3 separate regions of the Homo sapiens genome follow, and all the other regions are linked to region 1. Evidence: fine-mapped expression QTL. A gene starts in region 1. Each other region holds a variant in brackets. All regions are shown on one strand. Distances are from middle to middle.

The links. PIP is the estimated chance that this variant, and not a neighbour inherited with it, causes the effect. A credible set is the group of variants that fine-mapping cannot tell apart.
Region 2: its variant is the best candidate, but not a certain one, in a credible set for the expression of VPS35L in whole blood (TOPMed, PIP 0.55).
Region 3: its variant is the best candidate, but not a certain one, in a credible set for the expression of VPS35L in whole blood (TOPMed, PIP 0.75).

Annotation. Positions count from the first base shown.
Region 1 is chr16:19,553,548-19,557,666 of GRCh38, reverse strand. It overlaps VPS35L (VPS35 endosomal protein sorting factor like), which reads right to left and starts at 1,964. Exons shown (of 31, transcript NM_020314.7): 1 at 1,921-1,964. The coding sequence starts at 1,937. RefSeq lists enhancers at 1,280-1,509, 1,368-2,330, 1,890-2,369.
Region 2 is chr16:19,593,094-19,597,093 of GRCh38, reverse strand. All of the region lies in intron 8 of VPS35L (VPS35 endosomal protein sorting factor like), which reads right to left. Among named protein-coding and RNA genes, the nearest start is that of VPS35L, 39 kb to the right of the region's middle. The variant C/G (reference allele first, on the strand shown) is at 2,024.
Region 3 is chr16:19,575,969-19,579,968 of GRCh38, reverse strand. VPS35L (VPS35 endosomal protein sorting factor like) reads right to left here. Exons shown (of 31, transcript NM_020314.7): 6 at 841-917. Among named protein-coding and RNA genes, the nearest start is that of VPS35L, 22 kb to the right of the region's middle. The variant AAAAAAAG/G (reference allele first, on the strand shown) is at 1,676.

The sequences.
Region 1 (4,119 bases):
TCACGCCTGTAATCCCAGCACTTTGGGAACCCGAGGTCGGCGGATCACTTAAGGTCAGGAGTTCGAGACCAGCCTGGCCAACATGATGAAACACCGTCTCTACTAAAAATACAAAAATTAGCCTGGTGTGGTGGCATCGCCTGTAATCCCAGCTACTCGGGAGAGTGAGGCAAAGAATCACTTGAGCCGGGAGGCGGAGGTTGCGGTGAGCCAAGATCACGCCACTGCAATCAAGCCTGGGCGAGACTCCGTCTCAACAAAAACAACAACAACAAAATATTTAGAGCACGGCCATATTAGGAACTATAGAGACCCTAAATACTAAAAGCGTTATGGCACCTGTTTGCCTGCTTGTAATATAAAATTAAAATTCCAAAGGTAGAAATGTACTGGGATGCAGAGATTAAGACAGCATCTTCCTGGATTTTCTGATTGCAAACTTCAGATAAATCCACTGAAGTCAAATGTTTCTCATGTTTTTGGTTAGCTTTTTGGTCAAGCCAGCATGACTTTTTCATTTTTTATTATTATTTTTTTGAGACAGAGTCTCACTGTTGCCCAGGCTGGAGTGCAGTGGCATGATCTCGGTTCACTCCAGCTTCCGCCTCCCAGGTTCAAGCGACTCTCCTGCCTCACCCTCCCAAGTAGCTGGGATTACAGGTGCGTGCCACCACTAATTTAGCCCAGCTAATTTTTGTATTTTTAGTAGAGATTAGGTTTCGCCATGTTGGCCAGGCTGGTCTCGAACCCCTGACCTCAGGTGATCCGCCAGCCTCGGCCTCCCAAAGTGCTGGGATTACAGGCGTGAGCCACCATACCCAGCCAGCATGACTATTAACTGAAAAAAAAAAAAAAACCTCAGGGTGTGGAAGTGCTCAGAGGCATTCAATGCTGATGTAGCGTGTCAAGGAAGCAGTCTCTTAAGTGTTGGGCAAATGAAAGGAATAAGACAAAATGAAGTGTTTATCAAGCTCAAAAGCAGAAGGTTGTACCTGATTATTTCTAAGGTCTTTCATTTGCTCATTTAATCTAAGCTACTTCACATCATTTGAAGAGAAAGTAAATTATCTCGCTTTCTGAGATGCAGGAGAGATTCCCCGTCCCCAAATCCCACTATCATCAACAACACAACTTCCTCAAGTTCTTCACTCACACACATACCACCTGCTGAACCCTGAAGCTTCAGTCACTCATTCCTAGCTACTCCAACCACAAGGGACCTACGGGCCTGCCAACCAGGCACACGCCACGCCCTCCCTATGGTGGACTCCTATTCATCCTCCAAGACCCAATTTAACTCCTCCTCTCTGAAGCCTTCCCCTAGCCCCCTGGTGGGGATAATCACTCCCTTCTTGGTGCCTCATCCGAATGCCTTCTTTAGACATCCCTCTACTGTGCGTCTGCCCCATTATACTGTCAGCTCCTTGAGGCCAAGGAATAAGTCTGAGGGCTGTGCCTAGGATAGGATGAATGGCGGCCATTTTACAGATGAGAAAAGCAAGTCTCCAGGTGAACAGAGGAGCTGAGGAAACTGACCAACAGCCAGATCTCCCGACTCGTCCAGACTTTAAAAGCTGAGTCCACCATTACCCTCATCCAGCGACCCCAGAACCCGCGCCAACTTCTGGGGACGCGGAAGCCTGGAAACTCAAGTTTTCTTTAGGGAATGAATGGACAGGGGCCCGTGGAAGGCGCAGAGAGGCAGCAGACGGGGAGAGAACCAAGAACCCGCCAGTCTGGCTTCAGATTGCTCCGCTGGACCGCGGTAGCGGCCAGGGATTCTACGGTCAAGACAACTTGGGGGTGGCCGGTCGACCACCAGAACCCGACAGAGAGGAATTCACACTCTCAGACCCAGGCCGACCCCATCACAAGTAAGGACAGCCCCTCTCCAAAGCCCACCCGCCGCTGCTTCCTTACCAAGGAAAGACGGCCATCTTCCCAGTCACATGACCGCTTGTTCTGGGGCCGTCTGCTCGGCTTCCCATCCTTACCCCGCCACTCCCCGCACCCCTCGGCCGCCATGTTTGTGAAGGGCAGCTGGCCGCCCCGCAGCGGCCGCACAGCACCTTCTGCAGACGCCATGCTTGTGAGGGGCAGGCGACGCTCCGCACAGCACAGGCTTCATTTTCAGCTGACGCCATGCTTGTGAGGGGCAGCTCCCCGCTCCGGACAGCCCGGGTTACAACTCCCGCCGGCGCCATGCTTCGGAGGAGCAACGTCGGCCACGGCCAGAGTGCCGTAGTTTCTATGAGTCATGATTGTAAAGGGCAGCTGTCTACAGTGCCGGGTGGTCCCGCCTGCGGGCGTCATGATGGTAAAGGGCATGACTGCTGCTTAGCTCACCTGCGTCCTCTAGGGGCAGAAAGGACTCCAGAAGGCGGCGGAGCGAAGACGCAAACTGAGGTTCAGCCAGTACCTGGTTTTGCGGCTAATACGCTGTTTGGCGTGGGACAGCCATGCCCCCTCTAGGCCGCTGCTTTACCCACTGCTTTGCGGGCGGTTTTAGACACTTGCAGAATGCCCTTCCCACGACTAGCAACCGAGGGCTGCCCTAGATCTAATATGATTGACTACAGCTAATGCACGTGGGGAAATTAGGGTTCGCATTTCGTCCAACTTGGCAAAGCAGTGTTTCTAGGAAGGTGGATATCCATTTCGACCACAGAACGTTTTTAAAAATTATTTTAGGCCGGGAGCGGTGGCTCAGGCCTATGATCCCAGAACTTCGGGAGGCCGAGGTGGGTGGTTCACCTGATGTCAGGAGTTCGGGACCAGCCTGGCCAACATGGTGAAACCCCGTCTCTACTAAAAAATACAAAAACTAGTTGGGTATGGTGGCGGGCGCCTGTAATCCCAGCTACTCGGGAGGCTGAGGCAGGAGAATTGCTCCAACCCGGGAGGATGAGGTTGCAGTGAGCCGAGATTGCGCCATTGCACTCCAGCCTGGGCTACAAGAGCGAAACTCCATCTCAAAAAAAAATTTTTTTTTTAATTATTACTTTTATAACTTACTTAGATATCCATTATGGTCCCTTAGAGAGAAAGCATTCGATGTTTTTATAACTCTTACTTTTCATTCGGGGGTGGTGGTCTGTGGTTGTTCATGAGATGGTGACCTATGACAGGGAAAAGGATCATCTCCAGAACGGGCCCTCCAGTGTTCAGCTCAGTATGAGTAGGAAAGTATATCCACTCGTACCTGCTATTCCCAACACTGGAAGTGAACAAGGGTTAAAGGGTGGCCACGGGAAAGCAAGGAGCTCTTCCCATACAGCCATGCATGTTATCACATGCAACATCTCAATAAGAGGTCAAGGTGAGGAGCCTTTTCCTAGGCTCACACTGCATGATTAGGCAGTAACAAGAGGAGGATTCTTAAAGTTGTGCAAATTAACAGCTTTGATGTGAGCTTCAACCTTCGCATTCTCTTTTCTCCCTCTCCTTCCCTTAGCAGGCTTCTATCTCTTAATAAGTTAAGACATTTCCAGCCTGAGTTTTACCTTCTGAAAAGTCCAACTTTTAGTAGAGACGGGGTTTCACTATGTTGGCCAGGCTGGTCTCAAACTCCTGACCTCAGGTGATCCTCCCGCCTTGGCCTCCCAAAGTGTTGGGATTACAGGCGTGAGCCACTGCACCTGGCCCAGGGGACATATTAAATAATGAGATATATCTTTCATGGAACTTGTAAAGAATGATTATATACAATATTTGTTTTGGCCTAATACTTTTCAATATCTGTTTCTTTTTTCTTTTTTGTTTTGGAGACAAAGTCTCATTCAGGCTGGAGTGCAGTGGTGCGATTATAGCTCACTGCCACCTGTAACTCCTGGGTTCAAGTGATCCTCCTGCCTCAGCCTCCAGCGTACCTAGGACTACAGATGTGAACCACCATGCCTGGCTAATATCGGTTTCTTTTTTGTTTTGTTTTGAGATGGAGTCTTGCTCTGTCACCCAGGCTGCAGTGCAGTGGCACAATCTCGGCTCACTATAGCCTCCCCATCCCAGGCTCAGGCGATTCTCCTGCTTCAGCCTCCCAAGTAGCTGGAACTACAGGCATGCACCACTACGCCCAGCTAATTTTGTATTTTTAGTAGAGACGGGGTTTCACCATGTTAG
Region 2 (4,000 bases), 39 kb before region 1:
TCACCATGCCCAGCCCTTTCCTTCCCTTCTTTGTTGTTGTTTTGTTGTTGTTGTTGTTGGTTTGATTGTTTTTCTGAGATAGAGTCTCACTTTATCACCCAGAATGGAGTGCAGTGGCTTGATCTCAGTTCACTGCAACCTCTGCCTCCTGGGTTCAAGCAATTCCCCCACCTAAGCCTCCCGAGTAGCTGGGATTACAGGCGCGTACCACCTCGCACAGCTAATTTTTGTATTTTTAGTAAAGACGGGTTTCACCATGTTGCCCAGGCTGGTCTCGAATTCCTAAGCTCAAAGTGATCTGCCCGCCTTGGCCTCCCAAAGTGCTGGGATTACAAGTGTGAGCCACCATGCCCAGCCTTTTCATTTCACAGAGCCACTAGTACTCCACTATACAGACACACCATAATTTATTGAGCTAGCTCCTATTGATGGCCACTTGAGTTGCTTCTTATAGTTTGCTATTACAGGTGGGATAGATTCCCAGAGGTGAAACTGTTGGGTTAAATGTACATGCATTTAGGCCAGGTGCAGTGACTCATGCCTATAATCCCAGCACTTTGGGAGGCCAAGGTGGGAGGATGGCTTGACTCCAGGAGTTTGAGACCAGCTTGGGCCACACAGTGAGATCCCATTGCTAAAAAAAAAAAAAAAATTCGCTGGGCATGGTGGCACACACCTGTGGTCCCAGTTACTTGGGAGACTGAGACAAGAGGATCCTTTGGGTCAAGGAGATCAAGGCTGCAGTGAGCCATGATCACCCCATTGCACTGTGGCCTGGGCAATGAAGTGAGACCCTGTCTCAAAAAAAAAAATGGTATATGCATTCCCCCATAAGCAATGTATAAAGAGAAATAAAGTAGGTGCTTTGACTGCAGAGAGCTAGTTGAGCCTCAGCTCTGCAATTCACTATGATGGTGACCCTGGGCAAGCTACTTTCCTTCTCCAAGCCTCAGGTTCCTCATCTATAAAATGGGGACAACAACCAGACCCATCTCATAGGGCTGTTATGCAGATTATGGGACTTAATATCTTTTTTTTTCTCCTGCCTCAGCTTCCCGAGTAGCTGGGACTACAGGTGCCCACCACCATGCCCGGCTAATTTTTGTATTTTTAGTAGAGACGAGGTTTCACCATATTGGCCAGGCTGGTCTTGAACTCCTGACCTTGTGGTCCACCCACCTTGGTCTCCCAAAGTGCTGGGATTACAGGCATGAACCACTGCGCCTGGCCGGGACTTAATATCTATAAAGCACCTAAACAGTCTGTCCAAGGTCATCATCTGTTGAAGGTTTACCACTGCTGTTCCCAACTCCCAGCCCAGCTGTTTTCTGGGACGCAACAAGGACAGCAGCATCTGCACTACAGCCCGGGGAGTACAGGACGGGGCTGGAGTGCTGCTGGCAGGAGCTGGCAGAGTGGCTGCCCAGAGTTCTTGCAAGGTGAGTGAGCTGTCTGGGTCTGGCCAGGCTTGCAGGATAGAGCTAATCAGTGTCTCAGAGTTAATCTTGCTCAGGAAAGCTGACTCATACAAAAGAAACTTAGGAGAGGCGGGCGAGGGAACCAGACGGCCAAGAGGTTAATTCACGGGAGGAATGAGACTGCCAGGGGAGCCAGACACAGCCACCAGCCTCTCCCCACCAATGAGGGCCTCACACTCGCCGAAGGTAAGCTGTGTGCATGGACACGTCAAGGACCAGCAGTGTATGATTTGACATCTAACCTGAGAACCTAAAGCCCTCATCCATCCTGGGTCTCTCCTCACCATCTCCACCGCCTCCCGGGGCCAAGCCACCCCTGCCTCTCACCGCAAGTGCTGCCACAGGCTCCGGGCTCTACCCCCGCCCTACAGTCTAGTCTCAACACGGAGCCTGTTAAATCCCACGTGGGATCACCTCCCTCCTCTGCTCAACACCCTCTGGTGGCCCCTCCTGTCCTCAGAGTCAGAGTCAAAGCCCAAGTCCTCCCAGTGGCCCCCAAGGCCACCATGATCTCTGACCATGTCAGTTTCTGCCCCTCTCCCGGG[C/G]TCATCTCATCGCCTCTCTCTTGGCCTCCTTGGTTCTCAGGCCAGCCTGGCATGCTCCCAATGCTCCCACCCCAGGATCTCCGCACAAGCTGTTCCTTGGCCTCTTCTGCCCCTGGCCTCCACCCCACAGACCCAGAGGGCTCACCTCTCCCCTCTCACCGCCTTCAAGCACCTGCTCAGGTAACCTCTCAACGAGGCTTCCTCTGAGCACCTTACTTAAACTTGCACCCCTACCCCCTCACCTAATTCCCTCCATTCCTCTTCACCCCCTCACCCCACTCTGGTTTTCTCCATAGCATGGATCATTGTCTAACATACAATTGGGTTGACTTAATTGTTTTGTAAATTCTCTTTTTTGGAAACATAAGCACCACAAAGGCGAGGATTTTTTTTCTCTTCTTTTTTTTTTTTTTTTTTTTTTTTTTTGAGACGAAATCTCAGCTCTGTGGCACAGGCTGGAGTGCAGCAGCGCGATCTCAGCTCGCTGCAACTTCCACCTCCCGGGTTCAAGCGATTCTCCTGCTTCATCCTCCCAAGTAGCTGGAATTACAGGTGCCTGCCACCAAGCCTGGCTAATTTTTATATTTTTAGTAGAGATGGGGTTTCACCATGTTAGCCAGTCTGGTCTCGCACTCCTGACCTGAAGTGATCCAACCACCTCAGCCTCCAAAAGTGGTAGGATTATAGGCGTGAGCCACTGTGCCTAGCCAAGGCAAGGATTTTTATCCCTTCTGTTTGCTGACACCTCCCTAGTGGCCTGCAGAGAGCCTGATACCACCTCTCCGGGCCATCTGAACCCATCAGGGCTCATCTGTCAGCTGGGACATCTCTTCTTTTTGCCCAGGTAGCATCCACTCCCCTTTCTTCTGCTAACTGTATCACTCTTTTAGTTTTGGGGTGACCCAGGCCTGGATAATCAGTGCATTTCATCCCCCAGATAACACAACTGGCTCAGGGACTGACATGTGATCCAAGCCAGGCCAATAAGATGGGATTCTGAAACTTCTGTGGGAATGCTTGGAGAAAGTAGCTCTTTCCATGCCCTGGGACCACTAGCAATAAAGCTAGCAGAAGCTGAGGACAGCTTGTGAAGCTCGAGAATGCACCCAACCAAGGGCAAGGTCTTTTTTTTTCTCTTTTCTTTTTTTTTTTTGGAGACGGAGTCTCGCCCTGTCGCCCAGGCTGGAGTGCAGTGGCGTGATCTTGGCCCACTGCAATCTCCACCTCCTGGGTTCAAACAATTCTCCTGCCTCAGCCTCCCAAGTAGCTGGGACTACAGGTGTGCACCACAACACCCAGCTAATTTTTGTATTTTTAGTAGAGACGGGGTTTCACCATGTTGGCCAGGCTGGTCTTGAACTCCTGACTGCAGATGATCCACCCACCTCGGCCTCCCAAAGTGTTGGGATTACAAGTGTGATGAGCCACCATGCCCGGCCCAAGGGCAAGGTCTTAATGACACTGTTTGGGTTCCTGGATCCAGCTGCACCTGAAGCCAAACTACCCCTGGACTTTTCAGCATAAGCCAATAAAGACCCACTTTTTCAAGGTTAGTTAGCTTTCTTGTCACTTGTTTTAGCTAGCGCACTCAGGCCTCCGGTCTCTTGGACAGGACTGGGATGCACAGAAATGAATGAGTCTCTCAGATTGATAGTCTGCTTTCTGACACATTGTATCTTTCGATGGGTTTACAGATAAGATTTGCTGGGTTGGGAGCCCATTAGTCCCTGTAAGACAGTGAATGTCTCTGTTCTGATCTTCCACGTGTTCAGCTCTCAGAAGGCGCCCCTATTTCCTGGTTCTGGTGGGGTGCCTTGCTGTGGGGCACATCATATACAGCTTAGAGGGCTGCATGGTTTGAGCAAACTGCTAATGGCACGATGTTCTGGCCTAACCAACCACTGCCAAGCAGCACAGGGGCCTCCTGCTCCTCCAGGTTATTCTCTTCAGTCTAAACCTTTCTACCTGGCTCCAAAA
Region 3 (4,000 bases), 22 kb before region 1:
CTCGGTCTCCTAAAGTGCTGGGATTATAGGCATGAGCCACCGCGCCTGGCAAAGATTTTTTTTTTCAAGAAATTCTGTATTTGTTGGTTACATTTACCACTGTTTAAGTGTTGGCAAAAGACTCACTTTTTTTTCAAAGTACATGTAGGCCAATTAAAAGATTCCTGTGGGCCATATCCAGCCAGCCTGAGCAGCGTCTGTTGCAAAGCAAGGTCTTTGTGCTCCATATAAGGCTGCTTCTCAGGGAGGTGACTGCAGTTGGGTTATTTTTTTTAGACAAAGTCTTGCTCTTTCGCCCAGGCTGGAGTGCAGTGGCATGATCTTGGCTCACTGCAACCTCCGCCTCCCAGGTTTAAGCAATTCTCCTGCCTCAGCCTCCCGAGTAGCTGGGATTACAGGCACCCACCATCACGCCTGGCTAATTTTTGTATTTTTAGTAGAGTCAGGGTTTCACCATGTTGGCCAGGTTGGTCTCGAACTCCTGACCTCAGGTGATCCTCCCGCCTTGGCCTCCCAAAGTGCTGGGATTACAGGCGTGAGCCACCGCGCCTGGCCTTGCAGTTGGTTTTTACCATTAGACACTGTTGCTAGGCGACCCAGCCTTGCTCAGGCATCACAATGAGAAAAGAGGCCTCTAGAAAAGCAGCCCCAGTCAGGCTTCCGTGAGCTCGGCCAACTGCACACTGGCACCCTTCCCTGGATGGAGTCATTGCCTCGAGAGGACCAAGCACAATGCGCAGCCCAGGAATTAATCAAAGAGCAGCCACCGAGGTTGATCTCACTTGGCAGGAGGAAGGAAAAGCTCTCCCACTCCCTGTATTCCACAAATGACTTGCTCACCTCCTCAAAGTCATCCAGCTCCTCCAGCCGGGTCCGCACCTTCTCTGACATTGCCAATGTGGCAGTCCCAGCTTTGCCTAAACAGAATGAATTTACGTCACACAGGTGGCTTTTCTCGTGCACCAATACCCCCAGTGGAGGCATCTTTCACTCTACACTTCATCGTGAATAAAGACACAAGGGAATGATTCCATTATAGAAAACTATCCCAGATTTTCAAAGCAACTTCCTTATGTAACCAGAATTCCATCGAAACATTTCCCACTTAGAAGCTGCCCCTGGGAGCCCAGTGGGCCAGCCTCAAAGAGGTTAACCGCTGCATTTGAGATTTACAAACTTTGCTCTGTATCATCTGTTTATTCCTAAAGAAAGGCAGTCCAGATAAGGATGCCAAAAATCCGTCATCTAATTGTTTTCTATGAACAAAAGGCCCTCTTAGGCTCTTACTCACAGCGTAGAATTGTGCTCTCCTGCTAACAAAACAACCATCTCACTGTCTACCCAGGGTGGAAACACTAGGGCTTCAAAGCCCTCTCTTCGAGCAAACAGGACTAGCTGTGCCTCCTTCCAGCATCTGTCAGCACAATTTCGCCATCAGCAGGGACTGGTGGAGGGATGAAGGAAGGGCCCCCAGGCCACAGGCCAGCCACAAGGCAGGGCGATGCATCTAGCTGACTGCTGCCCTCTGCGGCCGTCTATTTCAGAATCCTTCCCCCATCTTTAGGGGGCCTCTGTTCTAGCATTTTTTTTTTTTTGAGATGGGGTCTTACTCTGTCGTCCACGCTGGAGTGCGGTGGCGCGATCTCGGCTCACTGTAACCTCCATCTCAAAAAAA[AAAAAAAG/G]AAAAAAGAAAGAAATGTGGACTTAGGGTCGAGCTGCAGAACTCTTTTTGTAAGCCTGACAAATGTTTTAGGTTTTAAGAGTCACAAAGTGTCTGCTCCAACTACTCAACTCTACTGTTGTAGCACAAGAGCAGGCATAGATAATATGTAAACAAATTGATAGGGCTCTGTTCCTATAAAACTGTACTTAAAAAACAGGCAGTGGACCAGACTTGGCCTGCAGCATGCAGTTTACCAACCCCTGATCTGGGGATACCCCTAGTAGTGGAATGCTGGATCAAAGGGTTGGCTCATTGTGTTAATCCCTTTGAGCTGCTATAACAAAATGCTACAAAGTGGGTGGCTTATAAATAAGAGCAATGTATTTCTCGCAGTCCTAAAGGCTGGGAAGTCCAAGATCAAGGTCCCAGCAGATTAGGTCCCAGTGCCTGATGACAGCCTGCTTTCCGGTTGGGTTCATAGATGATGCCCTCCTGCTGTGTTTTCACTTGGTGGAAGGGGTGAGGGGAGTGCCCTTGGACCTCTTTTATAGGGCACTAATCCCATTCATGAGGGTTCCACCCTCATGACCTAATCACCTCTGAAAAGGGCCCATCTCCTAATACCATCATCTTGGGGTTAGGATTTCAACATATGAATCGGGGCAGGGGAGTGGGGTTAGGCACAAACAACCAGACCACAGCACCTGTCTTCAAATAAAATAAAAAATGCAAAAGTGTTCTACAAGGTGGTTGTGCCATTTTACATTCCCACCAGCAGCATATGAGAGCTCCTATTGCTCTATATTCATACAAAGTCTCATCTTTGAAATGTGATCCCCAGTGTTGGAGGTGGGGCCTGGTGGGAGGTGTCTGGGTTGTAGTGGGGGATCCACCATGAACGGCTTGGTGCCATCCTTGCAGTAATGAGTGCAGTAATGAGTTATTCTTACTTCCCATGAGAACTGGCTGTTGAAAAAAGCCTGGCATTTTCTCCCTCTCTCTCCTCCCTTCTCTTGCCATGCAATCTCTGCACACACCTGCTCTCATTTGCTTTCACCATGAGTGGAAGCAGCCTGAGGCCCTCACCAACAGCAGATGCTGCACCATGCTTCTTATATAGCCTGTGGAACCATAAGTCAAGTAAACCTCTCTTCCTTATAAATTAGCCAGCCTCTGGTATTCCTTTATAGTACCACTAAACAAACTAAGACACTTGGTATCATCACTCTATTTGATCTTTACAAACTGGTGGGTATGATTTACCTTTTATGGTCTGGGATCAAAATTCTGTCCATAACAAGCTGGGCGTGGTAGCTCACACCTGTAATCCCAGCACTTTGGGAGGCCAAGGCAGGTGGACCACTTGAGGTCAAGAGTTTGAGACCAGCCTGGCCAACATGGTGAAACCCTGTCTCTATTAAAAATACAAAAATTAGCTGGGCCTGGTGGTGCACACCTATAGTCCCAGTAACTCAGAAGGCTGAGGTGGGAGAATTGCTTGAACCCAGGAGGCAGAGGTTGCACTGCACCATGGGTGACAGAGCAAAATTCCATCTCAAAAAAAAAAAAAATTCTATGCATAACAAAGCTGTTCCCACTCTCTTGATTTCTAACGTGCTGTCTCATCCAGCAGAGCCGTGGGGAGAGTGGCAGCTGCCATATCAGAGACCTGCAATGAACTATGATTGTGCTCATCTGCACCCAGCAGCACATGATCCGTCAGTTGCTCCAGAATCCCCTTGGAGCATCAAAATAGGAATTCTGGGGTCCCATCCTGCAAGATTAATTGAGCAAGTGGGGGCCAGGCATCTATATTCATACAAAAGTTCCTCAGGAAATCCTGCTACACGGCAGTTTGAGACACCCTGGTCCAGAGCTTCTGACTGTGTGTCTTAGGAGAGGAAGCTGAGAACTGCATTCAGGGACCAGTGACGTATAAGACTAAGCATGTGACCCCCTCACCAACATACCTTATTGCACAAGGGAAAAGACTTAAGGCAAGGGAAAGGCTCTCTAAAACCCAGTTGGTGAGGGAGGCACAATGAGGGGGAGACTACTTCCTCTGTAATTCTTAAACAGTAAGCTTACGTTTTACTCCTAGTAACCTCTTTGTTTTTTTTTTTTGTTTTTTTTTTTTTTTGAGACAGAGTCTCGCTCTGTCACCCAGAATGGAATGCAATGGCACGATCTTGGCTCACTGCAACCTCCGCCTCCCAGGTTCAAGCGATTCTCCTGCCTCAGCCTCCTGAGTAGCTGGGATTACAGGCATCTGTCACCATGCCTGGCTAATTTTTTTTTTTTTTTTTTTTTTTAGTAGAGATGGAGTTTCACATTGTT